Linked DNA regions of Homo sapiens: regions 1, 2, 4, 5 and 6 are each linked to region 3. The links come from fine-mapping of genetic effects on gene expression. A gene starts in region 3. Each other region holds a variant in brackets. All regions are shown on one strand. Distances are between the middles of the regions.

The links.
Region 1: its variant is fine-mapped to the expression of FCGR1A in whole blood (TOPMed, PIP above 0.99).
Region 2: its variant is fine-mapped to the expression of FCGR1A in whole blood (INTERVAL, PIP above 0.99).
Region 4: its variant is fine-mapped to the expression of FCGR1A in whole blood (TOPMed, PIP above 0.99).
Region 5: its variant is fine-mapped to the expression of FCGR1A in subcutaneous fat (GTEx, PIP 0.95).
Region 6: its variant is fine-mapped to the expression of FCGR1A in whole blood (TOPMed, PIP above 0.99).

Annotation. Positions count from the first base shown.
Region 1 is chr1:149,755,886-149,759,976 of GRCh38, reverse strand. All of the region lies in intron 2 of LOC105371406 (a long non-coding RNA gene), which reads right to left. It also overlaps the pseudogene TRR-CCT8-1. Among named protein-coding and RNA genes, the nearest start is that of TRN-GTT8-1, 18 kb to the right of the region's middle. The variant C/T (reference allele first, on the strand shown) is at 2,190.
Region 2 is chr1:149,710,531-149,714,621 of GRCh38, reverse strand. It overlaps TRV-CAC1-7 (tRNA-Val (anticodon CAC) 1-7), which reads left to right and starts at 1,998; the gene lies at 1,998-2,070. The variant T/C (reference allele first, on the strand shown) is at 1,981.
Region 3 is chr1:149,780,821-149,784,895 of GRCh38, reverse strand. It overlaps FCGR1A (Fc gamma receptor Ia), which reads right to left and starts at 2,202. Exons shown (of 6, transcript NM_000566.4): 1 at 2,122-2,202; 2 at 1,706-1,726; 3 at 639-893. The coding sequence starts at 2,152. It overlaps LOC124904411, which reads left to right. Exons shown (of 2, transcript XM_047438183.1): 2 at 1,636-2,006. It also overlaps a transcript of H2BC18 not described here.
Region 4 is chr1:149,670,580-149,674,670 of GRCh38, reverse strand. The region is part of intron 8 of LINC00869 (long intergenic non-protein coding RNA 869); the gene reads right to left. Among named protein-coding and RNA genes, the nearest start is that of RNVU1-30, 36 kb to the right of the region's middle. The variant C/T (reference allele first, on the strand shown) is at 2,072.
Region 5 is chr1:149,678,022-149,682,112 of GRCh38, reverse strand. LINC00869 (long intergenic non-protein coding RNA 869) reads right to left here. Exons shown (of 9, transcript NR_111950.1): 9 at 2,590-4,091. It also overlaps the pseudogene FAM91A2P. Among named protein-coding and RNA genes, the nearest start is that of TRV-CAC1-7, 33 kb to the left of the region's middle. The variant T/C (reference allele first, on the strand shown) is at 2,070.
Region 6 is chr1:149,617,020-149,621,110 of GRCh38, reverse strand. All of the region lies in intron 1 of LINC00869 (long intergenic non-protein coding RNA 869), which reads right to left. Among named protein-coding and RNA genes, the nearest start is that of LINC00869, 12 kb to the right of the region's middle. The variant G/A (reference allele first, on the strand shown) is at 1,724.

The DNA.
Region 1 (4,091 bases), 25 kb after region 3:
TTTTTCACAAGCAGACCAACACAAAAGGAAATTCTAAATGATGTTTCTCAGGCAGAAGGACCATGATTACATATGGAAATTCAGAGACATAGCAGAAATAAAGAGTAAGATAGCAGCACATATGTTGATAAATCTAAATTAACATTAACTACATAAAATATATGTCTAGTCTTCTGGGGTTTAAAACTATTAATACTTAGACCTAATAAATGATAACAGCATATATATAGAATGAGACTAAATGGAATAAAAGTATTCCAACATCCATATATTGTGCAGGAAGAGGATAACGGTATCAATTATTACTATGTTTAATAAATTAAGGATTAGCTGGGCACGGTGGCTCACGCCTGTAATCCCAATACTTTGGGAGGCCAAGGTGGGCGGATCATGAGGTCAAGAGATGGAGACCATCCTGGCCAACACAGTGAAGCCCTGTCTCTACTAAAAAAATACAAAAATTAGCTGCACCTGTAGTCCCAGCTACTCGGGAGGCTGAGGCAGGAGAATCACTTGAACCCGAGAGGCAGAGGTTGCTGTGAGCCAAGATCGTGGCACAGTACTCCAGCCTGGAGACAGAGTGAGACTCTGTCTCAAAAAAAAAAAAAAAAAAAAAAAATTAAGGATTAAGATTGTAATTTTTAAAGTAACCACAAAAGAATAGAAGCAACTTAAATACAATTAAAGGAAATACAATAAGGAAGAAAGTGAAGCAAAGCATATAAAAAAGTAAAAAAATATAATGTTATAATAGTTAAAAATAACCAATCCAAAACAGACAAGAAAAGACATAGAAACAGAACAAGCAGAACAAACAGAAAAAAATAAAGATGGTAGATTTAAAATTAATATATATCAACAATTACATTAAATGTAAGTGGACCAAATTATCCAGTAAAACAAACCCCCGAAATACTGCTACACTGGATTTTTAAATTAACTATATGATATATTTAGGAGTTGTATCTAAACCAGAAAGTGAGAGAAAGGTTGGAAATGAAAGGCGAGAAAAGGAGCTTGACTGAAAACATTAACAAAAAGGTGGCTATATTAATAGACTCTAAAGCAAAAAACATGACATCAGAATATATCTCTTAGAGAATATAACCATTCCTTTCTAAATACTTTTTATGCTGACTGGTTATCATAGGTGACAATATATGTTAATCTGTCTGCACCATTTTGTTAAGACAAAAAGCTTTGGTATTTTCTTCTTCACTCTCCAACTATAAAGCTATAATAAACTAATAAATCTTTAAATATTCCTTATCTTTAAAATTTTTGTATAAGTGATTATTGTCATGTTATTTAGTGCAGTGGTTTATTTTCATCCTTTCTTCCTAATCTCCAAGTATTGCCAGGTACTTGAGCTTTTCCAATGCACACGTATCAAAGCCAGCATGAGTCCAGAACCTACTGCCTCTGAGAGCTGATCCATGGTAATTCTTTTCCCAACATCCTCTTGGTCTCTAGGACTCTAATGACCAAAGGAAAAGAGATTGCTGTTGCTTGGCTACTATGTTGGTAGATATGATTTAAGGCTACAGGTATGTCCAGATTTACACTGTGGAAAGGTCACTCAGGATACAGTGTGGCAAATGGGTTGGAATAGACAAGACTGGCTGTAGAGAGGCCAGTTTTTGATCTACTTATGTTAATGGAGGTGATGGATGGACCAGCGTAGTAACAAAGTGGGAATGAGTCTGTATAGAGTCCAATAAATTTAAATACTATAATTCTTTGGAAATGAATTGTCGTGTTGGGAGATTGGGAGTGTTTAAAGAAGATATCAAGATCTGATTTGAGGAGCAGGATGCATAGCAGTGAGGATAAGTGTCTAGGCAGGGGTAGAAGCAGGTTTTAGTGATCTGTTGAAACACCCACAGCAACACACTACTCTTTGGGAGATGCTGGCTTGGGGCTGATCATTGAGGTAGAGGGTAGTATATGATGCTGACAGGGAACTCACTGGTGTGTTGAGTTTTAGCATCTGTGACTCTGAGATGCATATGAGGCCTCTTGTAAATTTTGGGGTTGAGAGTAGAAAGTACAGGTTTGTATTTTAGAAAGAGATTTCGGAATAAATGTAGCTCTGGTTGACACAGACAATATGTGAAGGTTTGTTGGCCAGAACTAGTATGTGTCTTGGGTGTTGGGCAGAGAACAGATTGAGCCAAAGCTCTGCAAGG[C/T]CAGTGTGAAGGGTGATTTCCTTGTTGGGTTCAAGTTTATGACTCAGCCTGGACCTAGCTTGGCTTCTCAACTAGAGAAGAAGCATGATTCCATGTCATACACAACTCCTGTCTTTGAAAAAATCATAATGACTCCCAGACCCAACATGTGGGGCAAACTTTCCAGATTTTTCTCTTCAGTTTAATCTTTCCAGGGAAAATTGGGGAAAGAAATCTCTCTATTTGAACTTCATCAAAAGACCAATATGTTAATATTTCAGCCATTAATATGTCTTTAAACCATGTTACTCCTTAAACAGCTATTACACGAAAGTGTATTAACTGAGGAAACTGGGTTCTCCCAAACAATGAAACACTGACTGCAAGCATTATTCATCTTTTTATATCATAAATTCCTTCAAATATTTTAGACATTTTAGAAAGCAAATAATAGTATTATAATGATTACAAGACTGATCATTACTCTTTTACAAAAAACGGCCACAAATAACTAACTCCATTAGCATTACCTTCTGTCCTTTCATTTCCTCTTTCTTTGTCTTCTTTTTTTGCCTATGATATTCTGGTATAGCATATTCCCTCTTTCTTCTAATTCTAATTCTGATTCTGCTTCTTATTTCTTCCCTAGATTAAAACTTTACTTACCTATGCTGCCAGTTAGTGCTTCCTTCCCAGAGCCACTAAAGCAACAGTTTGAGGTTGAGGTCCTAAATTGAAGATTTAGGATCAGAAACAAGGAACCTGGATGAATTTCTGATGTTTTTCTATAGGAGTCTGTTACGCAGTTGGAAGGAGCCTTTTTCGGAATTAAAGTTTGATCAAATAAGCTATTTTAATATTTATAGTTTTGTCTAGTAAAAGTATTCTGTAAAAACCTTGGTTTTGGATGTCTACTGTTAGCTTTTAGTCAATACTGCAAAAAGCTTCTTTTGGAACAATTTCTGTCTTTTTCAGTATTGTATTTCAATTGTTTCTCCAGGACCACACATAAGAGCCGGATTTGTGGTCCAGTGGTAGAATTCTCACCGCCTGCATAGGAGACCCTGGTTTAATTCCTGGCCAATGCAACAAGTTTTGTGCTTCACTTCTCTATATTCTTTATACTTCTGCCCTGCACAGGCTATCCCATGTTTAAGGGCCTTGGTTGTGGAGGCTTTTGATTTATGACAATGGTAACCCAAGTGATGGCCAATGCCTGAAGCATAAGATATTCAGGAAATGATCTAATGATCTAGGGACCTTGCAGTTAGAGTCAAGAGCCATTCCTGTAATCCCAGCACTTTGGCAGGTCAAGGCAGGTGGATCACCTGAGGTCAGGAGTTTGAGACTAGCCTGGCCAACATGGTGAAACCCAGTCTCTACTAAAAATACAAAAATTTGCCAGGCATGGTGGCACACACCTGGAGCTACTTAGCATAGTCTATCTTTGAAAGTGGCAAGTGTTTCTGGTAGTTTGATGCAGTTTTGAATATTGGTATGTAAAACTTTTGTTACTTTCATCTATTCTCCAGGTAGATCCCTAGAATCCCAAAGAACCATCACGTCCCTGATTCGCATGCTAGACCTTGGGCTGACCGCTGGGTCACGCCTCACTATGGAGCGAGGAACAAGAAGTGAAGTCCCCTGAAGGAGAGAAGCTGTGGGGAGGAGCAGTCACCTTGGTGGTGTCAGGTGTCGGCAGTCCAAGAAAAGGGGAGGCACGTGGGGAGGAATCCGTGCGGAGATGAGGGGAGCAGTGGAGACGTGGCTTTGGGCAGAGGTGGCGAGTGGACCCTCAGGCCTGTACCCTGGACACCATGAACAGAATTAGTTAACATTGTCACCCACCATGGCCTCCGTGTGTTCCGTGAGCCCATTTGCTTTCCCAAAGGGATTCCTAGCAATGTGTGTCAACAGGTGTTG
Region 2 (4,091 bases), 70 kb after region 3:
TCCATTGCTAGAAACTAGTGTGATCCTTTGGAAGTGTGTAAATACTCTGGGTACACTGGAGTTATTGCACTGATTCTTTCTCATCCGAGGAAGCTGTTGCTTCTTAGTTTTGAATTTGGTATTGTTTGGATGAGGATTTTTAATTTTTTTATTCTTTTTTTCCCTTGATGGTATGACTGTGGTGTATGTTGTGTATGATTGTTTGGCTTCATTTCTGGGTGCTTTCAGGGAGCCCTAGCTTTGTATGGGTTTCTTGGTTGTGGATAGCTTCTGAGCAGTAGCTTTCTCAGATGCTGCTTGTTGTGGTGATGTATTGGAAGTAAAAGCTAACACAGTAACCCTTGTTGGGGGCTGAGGGTACGGAATTCTCAGGAAACTTATCTCATGGACTAGCACTAAGCCCTTTGGTAGCAGGGTTTTTGAATTCAGTGGTCCAGTTTAGGATGCAGTCCAGTAGATGGTGCTTAAGAGTCAGGGCTGTTACGTAGGCTGGTGTCCAGTGGAAAAACCTGCCCTGACAGGATGGTGGGAAAGAGATCATGTCGGGGTGTGCTGAGGTCTCAGGGGAAGGGGCAGAGGTGCACTAGCTCCTCCTCCTGAGTAGGCAAGAATGTGATCCGCTTCCCTATCATGCCCTGTCACAGAGCTCACAACCTTCATTTTATAAAGACTTTGTCCTTTGGTTCCTGGCTGTGGTGCAGCTGAAGTCTGTGGATATGCCACTCTGACAGCTACCACTAAAATGGGGTTTAGGGCAGAGCCTCTTCCCCGAGTCCAGGGCAGGCAACTCCATGGTCTGTCCTCCATTGCCAGGGCACTGCAGCTCTGTATAGGGAGGGAGAGTTGGGCCCGTCCTTCCTGAAAGCCCAAGCAGCACAGGCTCACTTTCAGCCTGGGTGGTGCCACCATGAATAACGTGCATAATGTTCTCTCCTGGTGCACACTCACTGGGTCCTGGAGAAAAGAACCACTGCTATGTCTGCAGCCATATACGGGGTAGGAGAGAGATGATCCCTGCTTTTCCTGCTTTTCCACTCCTGTTCCTGGGTGTCAATGCTGCCCCCTTCTGCGATTGGTGCCATGCCAGTGTTTTCTTCGTCCCTAGGAGGGCTTTGGGACAGTGAGCAAACAACTGTTCTGATAAACGCAATTTAACCCGCGACCCTTGGCTCGCTCAGGTCGTGGGGTTGGGCCGCCTTTGCGCTTTTCCTTTGGATCTGCCCTTCTTCTGGGTTTGTTCTCTCGAGCTAGGGGAAGGCCTGGGTCCCCTCTCTTTGGCTCCTCTTGCCGTATCAGAAACCTCACACTTCTTCCTTTTCCAGAGAAGCTTCAGAGTGCTTTGTTGGGTTTGCTGGAACTCGGCAGGGCGCAGTATGTGGGGATGCGCGCTGTGAGTCTCTGTTTCCTCCGCTGTGACGGCTCTTCCCGCTCCTGTAGGAAAAGGCAATGCCCCTTTTGTCTTGTCTATGTGGGACTCCAAAGGGTCCAGACGAGACAGAAAGGGGGCGAATCCTCTCAGAGTGGGCAGGGGAGGAGATACAATATGGGAATGGGGCGGTAGAGGGGTGGGATTTCATGAAATTTCCTGATTTAAGGCGATCATGAAGTAGGCCTCTTTGGGAGCTTGGCCCTCCAGTCGCTGGTAAGGGTAACAGCCCACCAGTCTCTGGTGAGGTCCAGTCGCGTCCCCCGACTGCATTTAGAGCCAAAAGCAGAACGAGGCCGGCTCTGCGGCCTGGCGTCCAGTGACCCAGCTGTCTGCATATTCCCCAGGGTGGAAGCACTTGGACTTCAGGTGTGAAGGCAATGCGGTCACCACCACAGTAAGAAAAGCAACTAGGGAAAATGGCACCTTCTTCTCCCAACTTTTTTTTGAGACTCTCGCTCTGTCGTCTAGGCTGGAGTGCAGTGGTGCGATCTCGGATTTGGAAACTATAATAGAAACGGCCGATCTAAGATTTTCATGGTTATATTTTGCCG[T/C]GCAGGTACTGCTTGTGGTTTCCGTAGTGTAGTGGTTATCACGTTCGCCTCACACGCGAAAGGTCCCCGGTTCGAAACCGGGCGGAAACATAGGTTTTTTTTTTTTTTTGTTTTTGTTTTTGTTAGCCCTTAAATTTAGTGAGTTTACTCGAGGTTGGAAAACAGAAAAGTAGTTGAACCTGTGACTACATTTTAGACCTCATCAATCTATACAGATTGTCGACCAGGCTACAATTTCCACTGGTCTGCCAGGAAGAGGACGTCACAGCAGGCCTGCTTAATATTAACTTTGGTTCCAGCAATTCCTTAAGGTTCTCTTCATTCTCTTTATCGCCTGAATTTTCACAGGCAGACACCGAAAGTGGATGACATGTTAGCGCATTTCCTAAGGGTCCAGCTTGGCTTCGCTTTACTCTGATACAGTTGCAGATCTGGCTGATTTGCGAGACAACAAAAACAAAATGTTTTTTAAAAACGTTCCAAATCTGCATCTGGAACTCATGGAGTCAATATTCCGAAATCACACGAATTATGTACACACATTTGCATGCATACCCCTTCCCCAAATAATCCTCAGAAAACCGGTAAGCGTCCAAACTACTCTCCGGAGGCTTAGGTAATCAACAATTTAATAAATACAATTGCTAATGTATGGTGTACAGATCCTGTATTGCCCACCCTTCTCTATTGCTTTGTCCCCGCGCGCCCTCTGTTTTGCCTAAATGGGTTCCAGGCCATAGCCACCGACTCTCGCTTTGCCTTCTGGCCTCTCGGCAGTGCGCTTCAGCACCATTGCGCCAGGTGACGCTGCTGAGAACAGCTGAGTGGCCGGCACTAGTGCAGCTGGAAGCCAAGGCCCAGAATTCTCAGGAATCTGCACTTTACCCAGGCGAAAAGCCCAAGGGCTCTCCCCACAGCTTCCCAACATCCCTCTACAGAGTTTTTAAATATTAGACTTATTAACCTGTAGAGATGGAGAGAATCAAAGAAATCACAAGGTATCTCTGAGGGAAAAAGAAGAGCACCAGCAGTAAATCACTTAAGAGTATTGAACCAGCAAGCCAGGGATAGGAGAATGGAATGGAAACTGACAGGATGACTGCAGAGGGTGGTACTGAGGGTGGATGCGAACCACTACTTACTATTAATATATTGAGCCAAGCACACTAATGGGGGCATAACCAAAATACTTAATAGGGCACTCTTTTACCCACCATGTGTTTTACAATATAGTTGCTAAAGGATGTATCACCCTACTGGTTCTAGAAGCTTCTGGAGCCAAGGAGCCAGAGCATGAGAGCATAAAAATCCTGTCAATTGAAGCCTTGGGCTCTACACTGCTAAGCCTGGCCCAGAGGCTGGATTGCAAATGCAGGTGCTAGTGTAATGGAATGGATGTTTGTGTTCCCTTCATATTATATATTGAAGCCTTAACCCCCAATGTGAAGGTATTTTGGAGGTAGGGCCTTTGGGAGGTAATCAGGTTTAGATGAGGTCATGACCATGGGATCTCCATGATGAGATCAGTGTCATTATAAGAAACAGAAGAAAGACGAAAGTGCTCTCTTTCTCTCCACCATGCGAGGACAGAAGGAGAATGTAGCAGTCTGCAAGCCAGGGAGAGAGCCCTCACCAAGGAGGTGAATCCGCTGGCAGTTTGATCTTGGACTTCTCAGCCTCTCAAACTGTGAGAAAGAAATTCCTCGTGTTTAAGCCACCCAGTCTGTGGTATTTTGTTATGGAAGCCTGAGTTAAGACAGCTGGTTCACTGGGGAATCCACTGGTGTGAACCTGTGAAAAGTTTGTGACATGTGAAGTAGTTTGCTGCTCCTGGATTTGAGTATTGGCAAGAGCTGTTAGAATGATGAGCATAGAGGGAAGAAGGGTACAGAGAATATGGTATTAATCATTGTACTGAAGAAATAAAGGGACATTATATGGTTCTAGGCTGAAGTTATGTGCAGATTTAAGCTGTGGAAGGGTCACTCAGCATACAGTGTGGCAAGTGAGTGGTGCATACTACACTGGCTGTAGGGAGTCCAGTTTTTTGTTGTTGTTGTTGTTGTTGTTGTTTTTTTTTTTGAGGTGGAGTCTTGCTTTTTCACCCAGGC
Region 3 (4,075 bases):
CTAATAGGCAGAATGGTTAAATTAATTCTGGTACAGCTGTGCAGCAGACATTTTAAAGTGGATTTCTATTAATATAAACAGAACTTTAAGGTATTTTAAGTGATAAAAGTAAGATATAGGACAATACTTAGAAAGTGTTCTACCACCCACAGCTTTAAAACTATATATATGTGTGTATATATATATATATATATAGTTTATATATAATAATGCTAATATATACATATATATGCATAATATGTATATATATATTAGCAGTTTTGTTTCTGTGGAAGGTGACTGCAGATCTAGGTTTTGGGTGGGAGGAAGATATTTCATTGTTCATTATTGCTCATTTGTTTGAATTATTATTATTTACTATGTACAGGCATACATTTGGAATAATGATACAATCTTAGGGCCTAAGTCTTACTCTAGACATCCTACTTAGAGCTGGCCTAGCTGAGGTACTGTTGGTACACAGTTTAAGGACCCTGCTGTGATGTTTTGAGTATACTGATTTAGTTTCACCTGGTAGGTACATAGTGCTGAGACCTGCACCCAGATAAATCGACACACACACATCTGGCATCCAGAAAGGAGAGAACGCAGAGGAAGACCTTGTGGTTTCCGGCCCTCCTGGTCCAAGTCATAATTACCTCTGTGGATTTCCAGCTGTATGGGGTCACTTCGCCCTGAGAGACCTCTCTGGCACCTGTATTCACCACTGTCATTGACACTGGCAGAGGTGATTCTGTAGCTGGGGGTCGAGGTCTGAGTGGCTGTGCCATTGAGAAACCACTGTGTAGAGCTGCTCCCAGGCAGATGGAGCACCTCACAGTGCAAGGTTACGGTTTCCTCTTGGAACACGCTGACCCATGGAGGCTGCAAAGTGATCACTGCCTTTGTGGTGTCTACTTGGAGATTACAAGAAGAAAAAGAAAAAGATCAAGTGGAGTAAAGGGGAGGGCTCTGAGCAACTGGTGAGGCTTTTGTGGATAGCACAAGGGAAAAATACATATTTAGATTTATTTGAAAAATAGGCAAGTGGAAACCTACAAAAGCCAGCCTTTAAGAGTGTCCTCCTGCTGCAGAGACCTCTGTTCATTGTTATTAAATCCTCATCTGGGTGTTGGGAATCTGGGGCTCCTGAGGATTAAATTACTGATGTAGGTTTTTCTGTTGGGAGCAATGAAGCAGGGTTTTAGACTTGGGCAAGCCAAGCGGAGCTGTTTTCCTTATCCTCTGAGCTATACTGTCTCTGAGAGTACATTGCAGGGCTTCAGCAGCTTGTACATTGGAAACGGAGGTTCAAACTCCTCTCTTTGAAGCCTTCAGTATTTGCCTGGCTCTTTCTGAGGAGAAAAAACCCACTCTGCTTTCTTGTAAAGGGGACTGGTTTAGGGGATGTTGGGAAACCCAGCAGACTACTTCAGTGTCAGCAGACTACTTTAGTGTTTGTGCAATTCTGGCCCTTTCCTGCTGTTATATATACATTCAGGCATTTCGCTCAGAGGAAAGAGCTCATTCAGAAAACTTTAGAAAGAAAGCTTACAAATCATAGTTTTTATGAAAATCATGCTCTGAATATGGGAGATTTTACATAATTTATAAATCTTTCTTCTTTCTCTGCTTTCCCTATATGCTCTTCTGCAGGTTAATAGGACCCATCCTTTGGAAGTAGGAAAGTGGCATAGAAGGAGAAGCTGAGTTAGAGATCACTCACCCACTTGCCCATCAACTGGAACTGCAAGAGATCAGAGAATAAAGATATCAGTTGGTCCAAGGAAAATAATGAGGAAGAGAGAATTGGGGAGACAGAATTAATGTAGACTCTGAGGGATCAACTCAGATCTCTTGAGTTTCTATTTCTCTTTCTCAAAATCCAGTACTAACAGAACTGAACAAGCTACAGGTGGTTATCAAGGAAACTTCACTGCGGTGCGTCCAGGCTTAATGCTACCTCAGGGTTGCCCTTCCCATCCTTTTCATAAAATAAGCTCTAATAAACCATGGAAGCACAGATACAAGTTGCTTCATACTCATGAGTTCTACCCAGAGTTACCACAGGAAGACAAAACTCTTGACTCACAACAGCCACAGCCTGTACCCTTCTAACTGTCCCCTCTGAGTCCAACTTACCCCAAAGGAGCAGAGTTGTCAAGAACCACATGTTGTCTCCAAGCTGGTGGGAGCAGTGAAATCTGTAACATGCAAGATATTGAAGAGGTTCTGCTGGTGGCTCCAGAGCCAAATTAGAAAAGAGGAAGGAAATTGCCTTTTCTGACCATTTTCATCATGTTGCTTTTCTGGGAAATACATCTCAAATTCTTGAAACATGCTTTTCCCATGCTCATACCTGTTAGCCCATCTCTCCCAGTTTGAATCTCTGATTTTCAGGTTATGAACTCTCAGAATCCAGGGAAAAGGCTAAAGTTGTATTGACATTCTATTCTATTTTTACCCTCTACCGTTTCTGTTTCTTACGGTTAGAATATGGCAAAACCTCACTCTTTATAATTGGTTCAATGCCTGGCTAATGCCTCCAAACAATCATTTGAATCCAGAAGTTTCTATATCAGCCTCTATGAGGCCATGGGAAAAGTTACTCATCTACAAGAGCTGCCCTAATACAAACCAGCCTCTGCTCCTCTAGGGGACACAGACAGGATCAATCTCCCATTTTGGTTAAAAAAGAAAACAAACTCTCTTCCTGAAAGACATCATGAATTTGGAGTGTTTATTTTGGCTAAATCCAAGGTAATTAATTGTTTAATGTGGATGCTATGGAGAAGAAAAATAACTCATGCACATGGATAGCAATATCTTCAAGAAAAGAGTTTCAGAGTACAAGTGGGGAGCTCTGTGCCACCAAACTGAGGTGGCTCCTGAGACAGAGTTGTAACCCCATAAAAAGATTTTTAGGTATTGTGGTAAGAGAGAAAGAGAGCTAAATGGAAACTAAATGAGAGCTAAAAAAAGAGAGCTAAAGAGAGCTAAATGAATTCAATGAGTGCAGAGAGACTTTGGCAATCTTACTAGCAGAGAATGAAAAATGATGACAAATCATGCTGTAAGTTGGTGTACTGGCCCCAGTTTCTCACCGCTCCCTGAATCTACACTCTCTCCACAGCCTCATGAGGGTATGTCTCTGACTCTTGACTGTGGCTCATCATGAGACTTTCATTGGCCAGCGAAATGTGAATGGAAATGACATGGTGCTAATTTCAAACTTAGCACTTAGGAAGCTTCACACATTATCTCTCACCCTCTTGTTCTCCTGTGATTGCTGAGACAAGAACATTTTTTAGCTAGTCAGCCACAGTGCGAAACAGAGCTGTCCTAGACATTGTGGCTTGAGGCAGAGCTGCCTCACCTGCCCTGCAAACTTGTAAGTGAGAACTAAATGCTTACCTTTATATGCTACTGAGATTTGAGGATTGCTATACGAGCAAGAGCTGACTGACACAAATGAAAAGCAAGGAAGAAAGGCCGGGAAGAACTCAGGGTGTTCTGAAGAGACGAGAGAAGCCTCAGCTTGTTAAAATTTATATTCAAAGCCTATATCTGTAACTATTTTACTATTTTGTCTCCAAAGTTTTCTACTGTATGCATGTACCATAATTTATTTCACCAACTTCTCTTCATGAACATGTAGGTTATTTCTAATTTTTTACTGTGTGACCAGTAAAAAAGACTGCTTACTACCAAAATAGTCTTGTGACTACCTTTAAACATTTGACTTATTTTTTCCTTAGGACACATTCCTAGAATCAGTAGTGCTTACTCAAAGGAAATGCGCATTTTTTCCTTTGGATAAGATGCTATCAGATTGTCTATGATCATTATCCTCATCACTGCATAAATTTTAGAGTGCTTATTACATGCCAGACAAATATGCTTGATACATGTTTTCTTATTTAAGCCTCACAATAATCCATGAGTAGACACTAGTATCTCCATTTTACAAATGATAAACCTAGTGAAAGAGGAAATCAGTAATTTGTCCAAGGTTGTAAAAAATAGAAGCAGGATTCAAAATCAGACAGTTTGATTTCCTTTACGTACTCACTGATGGAGTATAACAGTGCCCACC
Region 4 (4,091 bases), 110 kb after region 3:
CCTCCACCTTCTGGGTTCAAGCAATCCTCCTGTCTCAGCCTCCTGAGTAGCTGGGATTACAGGCACGTGCCACCAGGCTTGGCTAATTTTTTTTTTTGTGTGTGTGTATTTTTAGTAAAGATGAGGTTTCACCATGTTGGCCAAGCTGGTCTTGAACTCCTGACCTTGTGAAATGCCTGCCTCAGCCTCCCAAAGTGCTGCGATTACAGGCATGAGCCACTGTGCCCAGCCTCAAAGATTCTTATGAGTCCTCACAGATGTCAGAGGAAGATACCATGACCTATACTTGCAAACTCCCAGAAGACTTAAAGCTATTGTTTTGCAAATGCACAGATAAATATTAATAACATGATGCTGTGGATGAGCATGAAAGTTTTTCTCTTACTCCTAATTATAATATTTTCTCTCTTACCGCTTTGCCCTGCTGATGGAATTCAATAAAGGAATCTCTACCAGCAGACACTTGATTTTTACCCTTCCTAGGACCTTTAACAGATATCTTGTTATTACTAATCTTTGGTCCTTGCTTGTTTAACCTCCTTGTAAAGTTTGTGTCTTCTAGATTACAATAATTCCATGTAAAGATGATGCTGGCACAAGGCTTTCAACCCATCCCCTCTTCTGACCCAGAAAATAAAGACATCCTGCCTTTGGGTCTTTTAGAACAGGTATCCAGAGATTTTACTTCTCCAGTGCTAGGCAGAGTCTATGCCCATAACATCAGCAGGAAGCAGTTACAGAAGATGAACCTGCACCCTTCTGCAAGCCCCTTAAGATTAAGGAGGAGTATATAATCTCTGATGGGGAAATGAGGTAGGAGACCAGAAAGACTTATTTTCCAGTCACAACCCCATTGAACAGAGCAGGATCTGGTCAAAACAGGGTGCAGTGGAGAAGCCTGCTGAAACCAGCAGATGATGATGAAAGTGACCTCTAGTTGCTCTCACTACTTATGAGCATAAAGACACTACCACTGGGACCATGGCCAGTTTACAAATGTCATGGCAACACACCTTGGCAATGGCCTGGAAGTTACTTTATACGGTTCTAGAAACTCCCTGCCCCTTTTCCAGAAAGTTCTGAATAACCTACCTCTTAATTGGCATGTAATTAAAAGTGGGTCTAAATACAACTAGCTAGCAGCCCACAGGCACCAACTCTGGGCACACTGCCTATGGGTTAGCCCTGCTCTGCAAGTAGCAGCACCAGTTCAATAAAAGTTGCTTTCTTTCACCAGCGGCTTGACCTTGAATTCTTTCCTTGGCAAAGCCAAGGAAACTACAGTCTGGGAGAAATTTCTCAGGCTACAAACCAGTTTTGAGGTTCGCCTGCCCTGCGTCACTACCATTGTTTCCTTGGGTTTCCCAGGAATGTACATGTGTGAGACTGCTGCCCTGCTTATAGATCTGTTTCCCTGCAGGAAACAGGAGTATCTTGCCTGGGGCTTCCAGAGTTGGAGATACATGTAGTTTCACTACTGAGTGCTAACATTTAATTTTGGAATCAAGTGATGCATTCAGACTGGCTGCTATCATTCTGTGGTATACATGTAGTGAACACATTTGTGACTGAGTTTCCTGCTTTTAGCTGGAGCAAGAAAGTTTTGTAATTGTGCTTTGTACAAAAAAATCATAGGCAAGAGAATGTGTGTAAAATAAACTTTATTGTCAGAGGTTTCTAAAGGCTTATCCTTCAAGGAAAATGGACATATGCTGAAGAGCTGATAAACAGTCTACAGCAGTGTTATTCTAACTTAATCTTGATTCCAAGTCCTTGCCATTTTCCTCTAGCTGCTGTTGACTCCAGTTATATATAGGTTGGGGGAAAGGGGATTATTTATGGATCTAGGCATCACTGTCTCTTGGGCAGTTATCACATTTGCAGACTGAAGGGATGTGATTTCTACAATCAAACTATCCATTTGGAATACAAATCTGGAGTGGCTATAAAATTTGCTTCTCAGAGATGGAGCTTTCAGATTTGGACTTTCAATTGTTCTGTTGTTTTAGTTTTTCTCATCAACTGGGGAACTGTTTGTGACTAAGCTTTGTTAAAAGTAGAGAAGAACTTT[C/T]CATAGTTCCAACATTAGTTGCTACTTGAAACAAACAAAAACACACACACACATACAACGAAACAATAATCTTTGGTGAGGTCTTGCTGATACCTAACTGAGGCTAGAGTGAGAGCTAAGTGGTGATACAGGCCAGGTGCAAACTGAGTGCAGCTAAGTGGATAATCTCTGGTAGTGAACTACAGTCTAGAAGAAGATAGTAATAATAGATTGAAAAGAAAGTCTCCTGAAATGAACTAGCTGGCCTGTGGTGTAGGACACAGGACCCCAGCCACCTTATGGCTCTAAAAGCCTTGCTCAAAGCCACTGCAGATGAGTTAGCTAGGTCTCTACCACCTCCATAATACTCCTCTGGAGAGAAATAAAGGTCTTTCACACCTCCCAGGAAGGGATTTGCTTAGCCTCAAATGTGCACATTCAGAAATAGCTTGTCATAAGAAAGAGAGGATAGTTTGCAGAGAAATAACCCTTGTAAGTCCACATCCTATTCCTTTTAAATAAGAGAGTGGTGCCAAGGGAAGAGCCCTAGAATGTCAAAGCCAACAGGGTGCTCAGATACCACCCAAGTACAGTTCCATCTTTGGCCATAAGGAGACAATGGTGTCAAGAGGCTAAGGCCATATGATCTGTAGGTGAAAAACCTGGGATGAGAATCAAGGCCTCAAACCTTTTCCACTACATCACAGATTTAGGAGCAGTTAGACGGAAGGCTTCAATCTGGAGAACACTAACAGGTTTTAGAGATTATTGGGTCATGGTGGCTGGGACAGAAATAAGGATTCACAGAAAGATGTTTATAGTCAATGTTCTTTTACAGTAAATGTTCTTTTGGGATTTTCCTTGATAAAAAGGCTGAGCAAAAGTGAAAAAAAATTTTCTTTCTTTCTTACTTTCTTTCTTTGTCTTTTTCTTTCTTTCTTTGTCTTTTTTTTTCTTTCTTTCTTTCTTTTTTTTTTTTTTGAGACAGTTTTGCTCTTGTTGCCCAGGCTGGAGTGCAATGGTACAATCTTGGCTCACCACAACCTCCACCCCCAGGGTTCAAGCAATTCTCCTGCCTCAGCCTCCCAAGTAGCTGTGATTACAGGCAGGTACCACCACACCCAGCTAATTAAAAAAAAATTTTTTTTTTAATTTTTAGTAGAGACAGGGTTCCTCCATGTTGGTCAGGCTGGTCTCAAACTCCCGACCTCAGGTGATCCTCCCAAGGTGCTGGGATTACAGGTGCGAGCCACCACGCCTGGCCAAAATTAAAAATTTTCTAATTGCAATTCTGAACAACTTATGGGTTGTGAAATCAATATAGTGGACTGCTTACTACTACAGGCTTTATTTAAATACCAGGAAGGGTGGATTACACATAATAAAAGATTTTTTAAAAACTGATCACAAAGAATTGTGTATTTCTCACTGTATCTTGTGGTCAGAAAAGTTTGAGAAACTGCTCCACATAGGCAAATTATAGGTTCAATCTATCCATCTACCTCTTTTTCTCTTCTCTTTTTTTCCATGCTATGCAAACAAGACCATGGAGAGAGGAAGGCAAATTCCATCAATGGATGGGGTTAAGCCTTTTCTATGAGGTAGCTGCACATTTGGGACACTCCTATGCTGGCGACTTGACATTCTAGTAGATAGATTGTCCTTTTCATCTTTAGCTACATGTTAAAATTACTTGGGAGCTTTTTAAGACTACTAGTGTCTTCCACCCACCTGGAAGCATTTAAATCAGAATCTCTATGTGTAGAGTCCAGGCACTTGTGTTAGTTAAAACCTTACCAGGCTTTATAATATGACAGAATGGTTTAAAGCTACTGAGTAGACCTATCCTATTTCCCACCATTTTCTTTGTTTCTCTTTCACCATAGGCTTCTTTCCCATGAGAAAGTAAAGATTTTAGTCTCTCTTTTCACAGTCCGAAGTAAATCACTATCTTTCTCAATTGGACTTCCAAGGCAAAGATTTCTCTCCATTTACCTATCTGGATTTTTACAAAGTTGGCCTCTGGATTCCCTTTTCCCAA
Region 5 (4,091 bases), 100 kb after region 3:
ATCCCAAGAAACAGATCCCCAACTCATTGACTCCTGGGTGGAAACCATGGAAGAGATCTACTCTAGAAGGTCCAACCTTGAAGACAAGCCCTTGTCTAACCCCAGTGTTGAGTGGTTTAGAGATGGAAATAGCTTTATTCATGAGGGAGTAAGAAAGGAAGGTTAGCTAACAAGAAGTCATTGAGGCCAAGGGTTTACCTTCTCAGAATTCTGCTCAAAAAGCAGAATTAGCTGCTCTAATCAGGACCTTCCAACTGTGAAAAGACTTAAGCCTGGGTTGGATGGCTCACGCCTGTAATCCCAGCACTTTGGCAGGCCGAGGTGGGTGGATCATCTGATGTTGGGAGTTCGAGACCAGCCTGGCCAACATGGCGAAACCCTGTCTCTACTAAAAATACAAAAATTATCCGGGTATGGTGGTGGGCACCTGTAATCCCAGCTACACGGGAGGGTGGGGCACAAGAATCACTTGAAACTGAGAGGCAGAGTTTGCAGTGAGCCAAGATCATGCCACTGCACTCCAGCCTGGGCGACAGAGCAAGACTCTGTTTCAAAAAAGAAAAAAAAAACCCTCAAGAGTCAATGTGTTTACTGACTCTAAGTATGGTTTCCGGGTGCTTCAGGCTCATGCAACCATAGGGAAGGAAAGGGGACTATCAAGAGCCAAGGGATCCCCCATACAACTTTACTCAGATCTTGGAACTTTTAGATGCCATCCAATTCCCAAAGAAATAACAAGTATTCACTGCAGGGGACACCAGAAGGGAGACACTGTTCTTATTAGAGGAAATTCCCTTTTGGAAAGAGCAGCTAAGGCCACAGCTAAGGAAACCCTGGTATTTCAGGCTGCTGCGCTACTACCAGGTCATCCATGTCAGTGGAACCGTACTATACACCCAAGGAAATTAAAGGGACTGAGTAAAAGGCTTCCAGTAAGACCCCTCTAGACGCTTGCTAGAAAAGAACAAACTCTATTCCTGAGGCTGACAAATGGGAAATAATTTAACATTTTCATGATTCCTCACATTTGGGACAGGATTTTCCATTCAAATTAGTTTCCTAAATATTCTTGGGGAAGGGACTGTTCTAATCTATAAAAAGATTTACCAATCAGGAAGCCACCCCATACCCCACTCCCTGCTTAAACTTGTACAACACCACGGAACATACCATAGTGAAGACTGGCAGACAGATTTAACCCAGATGCCACCTTACAGGGGACTACAATATTTGCTAGTATTTATAAACACTTTCACCAGGTGGATAGAAGCTTTCCCCACAAGGACAAGAAAAGTATTGGAAGTGTCTAAATTCTTACTTAAAGAAATCATCCCAAGATTTGGATTACCAAAATGTTTGCAAGGGGATAACTGACCTCCCTTCCCAGCTAAGGTGACCCAGTGAGGTAATGCCTCAGCCTTAAGCATTACCTATCTTCACTCTTCATGGAGATCTCAATCTTCAGATAACATAGAAAGCCAGTTGTGACATTAGCAAAACTCTTTCAGGAGACCTCAGAGGCCTGAGTTTTCCTCCTACTCATAGCCCTTTTGCATATGAGGATGGCTCCAAAGAGAACTTTAAAGCTTAGTCCATTTGAAATGACTTATGGAAGGCCTCCGCCTTTTTTTTAACTTGATCAACACCACAGTTTAATTGTAAACATGTCATATGTGTCAATGATCAAATTGACAACACTTTATAGATTTCATTGTATAATATTAACATCCTAACAGAAAAAGATCCACTGTACTCATTTACAGTTTGGTATTTTAAAATCCTTAAATACAAATTGTATTTGAAACACTGAACACAAAAAAGAAACTTGAATGCCAGAGAAAACTGAAAACATCAAGTAAAAGAAACCAATATTCCGCCCCCCCCAAAAAATATAAAATCATCTGATTACATAATTTAAAAAAGAAATAAAGGAAATCAGATGATCTTATTTTTTAATGATATAAAGTTGCGTTTCTTCAAACCCATTTTAGATGTGAAATGTACCATTTTAAGTTATATGTCTTTTTTGGTATGTGTTCTTCTTTTCCTCTTGGTTTCTAAAGAATGTT[T/C]TCCAGGATTTAAATTACATTAAAGAAGTCGGGAAAGAAAGGAAGGAATGTGGTAAAAAGCCAAATTAAATTAACTATTTGGAAAATAATTGGATATAAATTTTTCATGAATCTTCTTTGGCAAGTAACAAAGTCTGCATTTTAAATTTACCTTTTTGTTGAAATGGATCAATACTTGTAAGATTTAAGACATTACATGAGTTAATGTATAAGTAAAAGGAAGCCAAATTCACAAAGCAACGTGCAAACATGAACTTTTCACATTTTTGCTAAAAGCTCTAAAAATGCACTCTCCCTCCTTGAGAGTATGAGAGGTCTTCAGCTCAGAATCAGATGATTACTCTTGCCTCATTCAACACAAGAAACCAGAGGGGACCCCATGGTTTTTCAGTACTTTCCCTAAAATTCATGATTACCATTAGGTTCCATTTCTTCCTCCTTTATCTCTCAAAAGAAATATAGCAGCAAATCACTCCCATATTTTAAGCTTTAAATTCACCAACAACTGGGCTCACTGCCAACAAATACAAATGTTCAATTCTTTATTAGTGTACGTGTCATTACAGTTGGTTTAGATGGTTAATATAGGAATACAGAAAATAACTACAGTTCATTCAAACAAAGGAAATTAAAATGAGATTAAAGAGCCCTGATTAAAAAAAAATACAACTTTCAGCTGAAAAACTGTAAAAGTTACATACATACATACCTAATGGCACTAAGAATGTACAATATCAATTATTGGAAAAATAAGTGAGTGACTCACAGTCATAAGAAATAATTTAATATTAGTATTTTTCTTTTATAGACAAACATAACATACACATGGTTTCTACCTTTTATAAGGCAAAGTAGAAAACTAACCGTTACTGCATTTACCTCAAACACAGCACTGACTGTGCCACAGATAACATGGTCCAAAATATTCAATTCTATACATAGGCCATGGTAGTGGATGTGTGGTTAAGTTTTAGGAAAGGCATATATTTCCAGAAGTAAGTATGTTAAATACACAAATGTCTATAAATAACAAAAAGTTATCAGCAAAAACGCTTAGGTTATAACATTCCCAAACGTTCTAACATTTTAAGTGTTTTAGATATGAGTTGTCTGACCAGTTCATTTGGTTACAGTTTTAAACTAGCAAACCATTGCCCTATAAGAGGAGCTAAACTAAACTGTTAACACTACACAAACTTCCCAAGAAAGGTAACTTGAAAAGTCTAAAAAGTGATTCCAATTATTCTAATTAACATTTGAGATGCTAAAAGAATCAATGACTCAAGAAACACTTTGAAGTAATTCCATTTTTCTTTATCATTTTCTAAAAATGTATTCACATAAATTTAAGATCCAGATTGCTTAAGAGTATGTCTTCAAAGTAGGTTAATCACTAAAGCATTCTGATCCAAAGACATAGTCTTAATGCTTCTAATATGTAATTCTAACCTAAAATCACAATCCTTGGTTTGAAAACATCAAAGGTAAGAAACAAAAAAATAAATCAGGGTGAAAATGTGCAGCAGCTATAGCTACAAGAGTGGAAAATAAATTCTACTTTTTCCATAAAGACTCTGTGAAAATATAAAGCCCAAAGTCAGTGACAACAGAAGTCCACATATAAATGGTGTTTAAAAATAGAAAGTTTTCTAAAGCTTCTCATGAGATGTCAACGAATAGTCATAATCTGAATTAAGACCTTATAAATCAAGGTTAAGTTATACATAACCATGATGATTTACATACCTTCTACAATGTCCAACTGACATACATAATTTAGATACCCATAGGAATTCATAATGCCCTATCATATCATCTCCCAATACTGGATGTTTACTGTTTTATAGTTTTACTACTTTAAGTACCAAGAAGCATTTTCAGAGGAAGAGTTCCATCTCTTCCCTTGATCCCCCAAAGTATAGGTAACAAAATATAAAGTTAAACAAGATTGATGTTTGATAAACTAACATATAAAATTATCATTGCAATTTTCACAGTGACTGCTTTTAAACATAACAGTCA
Region 6 (4,091 bases), 160 kb after region 3:
ATGGCTTCCAGTATCACTTACAGACTAACCCTTCAAAAGGAGAAGGCTAAGTTACTAACATTTGGAAGGCTTATGAAAGTGAAGCATAGTTATGAGCCAGCAATGTTTTTATTTATGGAATGTGTGCAAACCATACACTTAAGCAAGCTCTGGGGAATGAGAGTTGGGGGGAATCAACTGTTTTATTTGCTAATTGGTATTTCCTTTAAAAGATAGAGTTCTTCCAGATTTTAACTGTGTTAATAGTTACTCTAGAAAAATTGGAGATTTGTGTGCATATATTTTATGTTGTAAACAGACACATACCCAGAGACACTGAGAGAGACAGACAGACAGTAAACAGAGGAGCACTAACCACAAACGGTTTACAAATGACCTCTGTGCTCATTCACCTGTCTGTTCCCCACCTTGCCTTTTATAGCAACTATAGCAACAGCCATGAGAGTCATTGTGGAAAGAAATAAAATAAAATAAAAAAATCCTGGAAGCTTGTAAAGAATGTGAGCAAAGGGGAGGAAGTTGTGAAAAAAATGAATAAAGGGCACTGATCCAGAGTATTGAAGAAGGCAGAGTGGAGAGCCTAGTAATGAGTATCTGGTACCCCAGTATCCTCTCCCACAGAATCTGTACAGCTCTCCGTTTATGACAGTTTAAACTTAATTTAAATTATCAAACAGACACTTTCCTCAAACATATAAATGATGAGGCAGTTCATTCAGGCTGTATGTATAAAGTTGTTCCAGCCACCTTTTTCTAACGGCTTCTCTATATCTTTTACATGGAGACAATGAGAGATTTGCTTAGGACAATTTGACTGTAATTTAGAAGTAGGAAATGGGAAGTATTTGTATCTTCTTTGCCTAACTCACATTAGTTACTCAAGTAAGCATTTCTTCCGTTATTGCATTTTCCTGATTACAAGTTTTATGTTTTCTCTAAAACACATATCAAAAGAAATGTCCTAAGCACTATGCAGGGGGAAGCCATGACATTTATCCACCACTGTCAGCAAAAACATGAACTTAGCCCTCAACAGAATATTTCACTTCATTCTAGTGTTACCTCTGCGTCACCTGCACTGGAGTCACCACTTGCCTGTTGGGTAAGACCAGGATGCACCGCTGAAATAAAAAGGGGTCAGACAATACAAGAAAAGCCAGTAGAAATTGCCAAATGTATCAGAATACACACAGGCTTTCTAAGGATATGGCCCAAGAGGAAGGCTCTAGAGCCCACCCTGAAACAGGATTTTTGACTTCACAGAGAAATTATTTAATTTTCAATAACACAATTCAATTAAAGAAAGGGAAATACAAGGCTAAACAAATAAGAAATGAAGACAAAAACCCAACCTTTCAAATCTAAAGAAAATAATCTGTTTTAAAGACACAGATGAAGATCAGGAACCCAAAACAGAAGAAAGGAAAAGCAATTAACGCTGGCATCTGATAACAATGAAAAGTATGGAGTCTGGAGAATCGCTAGACTCTAAAAATTATAAAGGTTTAGACTTGGACTTTGTACACTGAAGAAAAGAAAACTGCATGCATTTATACTGACCAATGTACAATATTGCTGCTTTTTAACTTTTGTGTATATGTAGGGTAGATTTTTTTTTTAAGTGAAAGCAAGCTTATTAAGAAAGTAAAAGAATAAAAAGGTGGCTTCTCCATAGGCAGAAAACTAGCGTAGTTTTTTAATTAGAAATTGTTATTCAATAATA[G/A]TACATGTTACAAATAAATACCATTTTAAACTGAAAAAATTGTAGACTTTCAAATCAGTTAGGGTGGTCACCCTAAAAAAGGGCATTTTTCTCCCCTTAGTCTCCTTGTTCATGTTGCTCACAACAAGAAATGGGCTAATGCTATGAATAATAATAACAAACACTGCCTTCTGTCAGGCCCTGTGCTGAATACCGTCTGCATATGTATAGGAAAGGGTTAACTCAGCAGGTCTTGTTTGCCCAGACTGTGTACATTTCCAAGAAAGGTCTGCCTTTAGTACTGGTCCTTGGCCAGCTCCTGGAGAATGAGCTCTCAGCTTTTAGAAAATTCTATCTGCTGAGAATAGTTTTGCATGTCTCAGGTCTTGGGCCACAAAATATCAGTTTAATCAGATGGTTTATGTTAACAAGTATGATTTATGGCAAACATAGATCTCTAATCTCCATTTCTCTCTCATATATCTATATTTATCTATCCATATATATGTACCTATATATATCAAATATAAAGATATGTTTATAGCAATTGTATATACATAGAGAGATAGTATGTAGTATGAAGAGAGACATAGATATTATTCTTCATTTTAGAATGTTATCTTGGTATGTTTAAAAGGAAAAACTTAAGATGTGTTGCAATTGCAGTATGAGTTTCAGGTATGTACATGTTATGTGTGTGTGTGAGAGACACACACAAACACATTTCAAATATGTTTTATGTTTAAGCTCAATATTCAAACACAGAAATATAACATCTATTCTTAATATGTTTTATGTAAGTACAGCAGCAGCATTATTAAATACTGTATTTCTATGGTGATTGAAAATTAGTAGGCAGAGAATTTTTGTAATGGTTCTTAATAATTTTTGTAATAGTAAATGATTACTTTTTGTTTAGTATAGTTTTATAATCTATACATGAATAAAGTGGATATTTCTATTCATATAGAAATGTGATTTACTCTCATGTACTTATCTACATGCTAAAACCATAAGTTATCAATTTTAGTTCTGTGCCAAGGCACTTTTACTGAATAAAAATAATCAGCTAATTTTATATTTTCCTGATTCAAATTTATATGCCCGTGTAATGTTCCGGGGTTTTTTTTTTTTTAATTTCTGTAAATCAGAATATTCAGATGTTGAAAAAGTCTTTGCCTTCAGATTTAAAAGATACCTTTGAAATGTAGCATATCCCAAAATGCAACCCAGAGGCTGGCAATGTCAACATTTTTCTGTTTTAAAAAACCTCTTATGAAAACTATTGCCATACTAAATTTTTTACTTGCTGATGACTTACAGCTGGAAAGGATTCTGTACATATAAGACATCAAATATTGAGGATACTGGAACTTTTAAATTAATGGCAAAGAAAGTCAACAAAGGAAGTTCATATGAAATCAAACTAGTAATATGATTACAAAAAAAAAAGTTTAAAATTTTTCTTGGCCCCAGTCTTATCATTTCTGAGCCAAATACAATTCTATCGAAATCACCTGAAACTGAAATCACCATTCTAGGCTGGTTTTCCCATAAAGATGGACTGCTCCAAAAAGAGGAATCAAGAAAGAATTTGGCTCACAGTGAATTATTCACTTTGTCTTAGTTAACTAAAAATAAAATCTGACTGTTAACTACAGAAATCATTTCAAATACTGTGGTGATAATAAAGTAATGACTGCTTTTCAGCTGGAGGGACTTTTTTTTTTTTTTTGCTGCATATATAGCTGTGGTACATTTTAATGTGAAATGATGACTGCATCAGCTTATATCCATGGAGCAGATTTTAGCATTCAGCTTGGGTCTCCCAGTCAATATCTACGAGTCTCTTCTTAAGGAGATCGATGACACAGATACATACAGACTAACAAATGTGATACCAATAATCAAGAATTCACTCAGTTAAGATTTTGCCCACTGATTTCCACACAAGAAACCTAGAATTTACTAGATTCTTGTGCCTGTGAGGCTCCACTCGTTTCCCTGAATCACAAAAGCTACAGAGTATTTAGATAGAAATATACCTACTCTTAACATGAACCATTTTAAATATATGTATTACTGTGTCCACAGGAGTACACTTTAAAGCAGGAACTTCACTCTTCAATCTCTCCAATCATGTGTTCCCTAAAGTGGCATGTGGTTCCCTAAAGCTTAATAACTGACATTGCCTTAAAAAAGGGGTTTGCTTCCCGACTAATGTGGAAAAAGTCTGAAAAATGATTTTAAATCTTTCACTAAATTTCTCATTTGGTCACGTGGAGGAAAATGATTTCACCAAATAGATACTCTCATTAATTTTTTAATGTAATTTATCAAAGAAATGAAATATTTAGATAAATTCCAGATTTCCCCCACCATGAGCTTC